2 separate regions of the Homo sapiens genome follow, and region 2 is linked to region 1. Evidence: fine-mapped expression QTL. A gene starts in region 1. The other region holds a variant in brackets. All regions are shown on one strand. Distances are between the middles of the regions.

Region 1 (2,793 bases):
CCATCGTGATATTGTGATACAATAGGAAATACATATTTTGTCTTTGTCCCTGGTTCCTGACACAGAGCTCCTAAAACCCTTGGAATTTCCTCAGTGATAAGATCAATAAAGGTGAAAGGGCCATTTTTGTTATTCATGACGTCCCTTTTGACTATGTCTAAGTTTAAGTGAACAGGTAACTTTTGGAAAGTTTCTAAGGATAGCGGCTGGTTGCCAGGAGAATCAGCCATGTTATTCAGTAATCCCCTCCCATCTCTGGGGAGGAAAGAGGGACTGGAGATTTATTTAATCACCAATGACCAATGATATGATCAATCATACCTATGTAATGAAGTCTTCATAAAAACACAAGGGAACAGAGTTTGGAGAGCCTCTGGGTTGCTAAACACATGGAGGGACTGGGTGGATGGCATGCCTGGAGACAGCATGGAAGCGCTTATCTCCTCTAGTTTTTTAACTGCATTCTCTTTACTTGAAACTGTAACATTTGTTTGTATACTCGTTTATTTTTCTCTCAACTCTACTGTGAGTTCCATAAAAGAAGGGACTCTGCCTTGTTCACCCTTGTATCTTAAGTATCTAGCATAGTGTCTGGTATACAGTGGTACTCATGAGATTTTTGTAGAATGAATACATGAATACAGGGCAGAAGATTTAAACTGGGTCCCTAAATGCCAAGGACTCCATTTAAATACTCTACCTGCTCTGCGCTAAAGTTTGCCTTGCTCAGTTAGACTATTAGCAATGGTCTTAACATGAGTCTTTAATTTTACTGGTCAATGAGATTCAAGCATAACTTGGCTATGTCTGAAAACATGGCGGAGTATCTGACAGAGTCCTTCATGTAAGAGGGGCGTGGGGTAAAATCCACATGGGAAAGGATTGAAACTGTCTTCACTGCTCAGATTTGAAGAGATCTGGGTTTGTTTAAGAAGCTGGTGATGTGGTTCATCAGAAAAAGAGAAGGCATTTGACCCCAATCAAAGCCTTAGATTGAAGGAGGAAGTGGAGATTCTGAATAATGACCATGTCCATTTTGACCAGAGCAGAGTGTTCTTTCTGGTCTCATGAACAGGCTCATGATTCACAAAGACTAGCCTACTATTCCCATTCAACCTGTGTGAGGGGAAGAGCAGGAATGATTGCTCCTGAGCACGAGTGATGGGGGTTCCTAGAAATACTCCAAGGTGACTTTACATAGGGAGGAAATTTATTTCAGGATCTGGTGAAGTTGAGAGCTCACGTAAATTTGGTTTTAGAGAAGAAATGAAATATCAAATGGTACAGCATTTCCCACACTGGAAAAGGTGTTTGAGGACATGAGAGAGTTAATAAAGCAATTGCCCGTGACTTTCTGCTGAGACATCCACTAACTGATTTATCTCATCTTGATTGTGGGAGCCACAGTCTTGATGCATTCATTCTCAAGGACACTTGATCCACTGCCAGAGAGGCCCAGAATTTTCTAACTTACTGTGTGGCAGAATGAAGCCTCTGCTTGAAACCCTTTATCTTTTGGGGATGCTGGTTCCTGGAGGGCTGGGATATGATAGGTGAGTGTAAAGTGGGAAGAGGAACTGATTATTATAATTTAGATTGTCTAAATTGAATGGTTTCTTTTTAAGACCAATGCAGCTGGCTTCTCCTTCCTTGCTACTCATATATACCACCATGAGATGAGAATAATAAAGACCACTGAAATTTATCACTGAATAATCATAATCCTCTAATAATCCTTGAATAAATGAATAAATATCTAGCAAACATTTCCTAACACAATGCATGAGATATACAAATAGACATGTCATGTTTTGTGATTGGAAAAAGAAAATTGTAATACAAATTCTATATCCTTCATTTTCATAGTATCTCATTTGGTAAATCACATTATCCTAATTATTAAGAAAAATGTTAAAATGACCAAATAATTTCACCTAGAGATAAGTACTATTAATGTTTTCAGATAGCTACCTGATTATGTATGCAGCACTATTTCTGAAATATTTCACTTAAATTGTATTACAGAAATTTTCCTATGGCATTAGCAATTTATTTAAAACAGTTGAAATTGCTAATAATATTCTGTCATTTAGTCAATTCCTGCTTTTTCATTTTTACAAATAATGCTGTGATGAGCAACCAGCTACATAATTTTTTTTGCTTTTTGCAAATCTTTAATTATTTCTCTAAGAAGTGGAATTACTGGGTCAGTAACTGAGGAAAATGTAAGGATCTTGCTACACATTGCCCAATTACCCTCTAGAAAGATTACATCAGTCTACACTTCCAATAACAGTGTATGAAAGCACTTTTTAAGTGTTTGGCAAATTGACAAGTAAAAAATACACATTGTTGACTTCCTTTGTATTTTGTTGATTTATAAGAGTAAATATTTTATTACTAATTTTATCATTTTATAAATTGCCCATTAATGTCATTTGCCCATTTTTGTGGTCTCTCCCTACTCTTAATGAATCATAAGTTCTCTAAATACATTCTATTGAAATCTGTGTGTGTGTATGTGTGTGTGTATAGTTTCCATATAAAGTGTGTTTTTCCCTTGTTCATATGCAAATCATTATTTTGCTCATTTAGCATATCTCATGAAGTATATGTGGTTATAATTGGTATTTCCTCTTTTGCTTCATGGTTAAAGAAATCTTGCAATGAACTTGCTCTCACATAACATAGAAACCCACTCCAATTTTTGTCCCACAATAATTGTGTGACCTCAGCTTGTTCCTTATCTTCAGTTCAATTTCAGATACTTACAGAGTCCAGGATCTCTGTGAT
Region 2 (2,832 bases), 150 kb before region 1:
CTTTCATGTCTGAAAATTTTCCTCTTCAAAAATGTAGCCATCCTTAAAGGGAACTGAGAGGTAACTGTGTATAATGTTGTATATTTTTGATTTATAAAGTAGCCTTGTATAGTGGAATATCTGCAGAGGCCAAGTAAAAGAAGTGAAGGACTAAGACAGGAATATCAAGGATTGTGGTCGGTGGAGAGCTCAACTTGGAAATCTCCAGAGAACAAGAATGCAGCAAGACTAAATAGTAATATCAATAACTGTTCTTGTTTTGTTTATTTTTGTTTTCAGAGTAGCTGTGCTATGTGTTTCCAGATCTGCTTATTGTTTGGGTTCAAGCCACCCCAGAGGATTCCTTGCTATGAAAATGCGGCATTTGAATGCAATGGGTTTTCATGTGATCTTGGTGAGAAAAAAATGCAAATGAAATATTCTTTAATTACTGATGTACATTCTAACAGCTGCCAGGAATCTTGTGGTTGAGACTGGTTACTAGGACTAGAGGAATTGTCAGCATTATTGGAATGAGTGCTTTAGTTACTGTTTTCTTTGAAAAAGAACATTGCTAGTACACGATTTGGGTTCTGCTCAGCTGATTACTGTCATTACTAGAGCTTTTACAAATGTTGTTCTGGTCAGCTTTAATCCTTTTTTGCTAAGAAGAAGAATGCAAATAATATATTTTCATATTTAAGATACACAAAACCATATTTAATTTCCAGGTTATCTTGAACAAGGGAAGGAAAGATGTTAAAGCTTTGTTTTCATGGCCTGTGTGAAGCTGTTACAGGATGTTTGTTGCCAGAAAAGGCTGGATGGTTTTAAGAAGATGGGTCTTTCTCTTCCCTCTTATGCTTCAATTTTATTTTGTACCCCACAGCTTCTCTTGAACAGCCTCTTCTGATGTTTCTAGGTAGTAGGAACCTTACAAATACATTTATATATATGTTGCTGTTGGAATCTATCTAAATGCCACTCATTTGGTCCTGCGCATAATGTAAGATGTAAACATTCCAAGTCTTCTATTATTATACTTTAGTATTGGAAATGGATTACGTGTGGACTATTGAGATTAAGATGACTCCTTTCTCTTAGTGGGCTACTATTTAAGACTTTGTTTTTTATATTGCTGATTATATATATTCTAAGGAAGATTTTCTCAAGAAAGCAGTTTTTGCACCATTTAGAGGACCTTTAAAATTTGTATAATTTTCACAGTTAAAGCTTTCTTAAACCCTAGCATGTAGTCTTATTATGCCTTTAAAATATGAGTAGTTATAAGGTCACATTTGCTTTCAAAAAGCTATTGTCCTCATGTTACTTTACTATGTTTGGATCTCTAAACTAGCTCTTTTGTTAGTATCGTCTCACAAACTGATTATTTTCCTCTTTCTTTGGTAAGGTCA[A/G]TAACTGGGAGATGGACAAACTAGAGATGGAAGATGCAGTCACATTTTTGAAGACTAAAATCTATTCAGTAGAAGCTCTTCCTGTTGCTGCTGTAAATGTGCAAAGCACACAATAAAGTGAAAATCAACCTTTTCATATTAGGAGACATGCATTTGTAAAAATTAATAAAGATGACAAGTCAGTTGTCAATGGAATTGAGCTATCTGCTAAGACAAAAAATGTTACCTCAGTTCACTATTAAAATTAATTTTAGGAGTGGAAGAAATGTTGTTACTGCCATTTAAAAATATGCTGAGAAAATTCCAGAAGGGTTATTTTTCCAACCACACCTATTCCCTCTAGTGCCCAGATATTTGATTTGTGAGCTGTACGTTTCACCTTTTCATCTTTGATCTACTAAAAACTGGTTTCTTAGTTGTGAGGTGTCACAGGCAGGTTGATGTGGGTAGTAGTCCTTGTCTTTGGAATCTGAATATTTATACTCCTGCTCTAAGCTGTTCTAAGACTTGGGGTTATGCCTTTAAATCATTTTCAAGCATTGGCCAAATAATAATTGGACAAAGTTCTAAAGTTGTCAAGTGTGTAAGAATTAGTGAGGTAGCTGTTGAAAATGAGTGAGGATGGTATTTGTATTTGTAATAAGCACTGCAGGTAGAGATATTTCATGGGTTATAATAAGAGAAACACAGATGAGATGTAGATGGTAAGGAGTCTTACTGTTGTTGGGGTCCTTCCTTTCTCTTTCTTTTTTCCCCCTTACCCCTCCCACAATTTCATGAAGTCTTTTAAATTAAATATATAGCTGAATTGTGTTGTGAATCAGACCTGAGGACTATTTTTTCGATTATGTGTGTTCATTCTTTGTTCAAATATTTGTCCAAATTCAACTATTTTGTTCAATATGCCTGTCTACCTAGTATTTGGCTCGCTGGGGATATAGTGATGAATAGGCATGGTCTCTTGTGGAACTTACAGCATGGGTTCCATGCAAGTTGGTGTTATTCTGCCCCCAAGCACACAGACATGCAATTACTAGACATCTTAGTATGTGCCGGGCACTGCTAAGTATTCATTTGTGTGCTGCCTTTTCATGATCTGAACCCTTTGAGGTGTAGCTGCTATTATGATTCTCTCTGTGTCTTCACTTCCTCATCTCTAAAATCAGGATAGGTATTTGCCCAAGGCTACACAGAGTAGGGGAGGGCTGGAGTTTGAATGTGAGCTAACATAGGCTTATAAGAAAATACAAAAACTGGGCTGGGCACGGTGGCTCGTGCTTGTCATCCCAGCACTTGGGAGGCCGAGGTGGGCTGATCATGAGGTCAGGAGGTCAAGACAATCCTGGCCAACACGGTGAAACCCCATCTCTACTAAAATACAAAAAATTAGCCGGGCATGGTGGTGCATGCCTATAATCCCAGCTACTGGGGAGGCTGA

Evidence for each region. PIP is the estimated chance that this variant, and not a neighbour inherited with it, causes the effect.
Region 2: its variant is the best candidate, but not a certain one, in a credible set for the expression of CPO in whole blood (TOPMed, PIP 0.87).

What each region holds. Positions count from the first base shown.
Region 1 is chr2:206,938,115-206,940,907 of GRCh38, forward strand. It overlaps CPO (carboxypeptidase O), which reads left to right and starts at 1,404. Exons shown (of 9, transcript NM_173077.3): 1 at 1,404-1,553. The coding sequence starts at 1,486.
Region 2 is chr2:206,790,293-206,793,124 of GRCh38, forward strand. FASTKD2 (FAST kinase domains 2) reads left to right here. Exons shown (of 12, transcript NM_001136193.2): 11 at 280-394; 12 at 1,391-2,832. The coding sequence ends at 1,510. Among named protein-coding and RNA genes, the nearest start is that of MIR3130-1, 8.4 kb to the left of the region's middle. The variant A/G (reference allele first, on the strand shown) is at 1,395.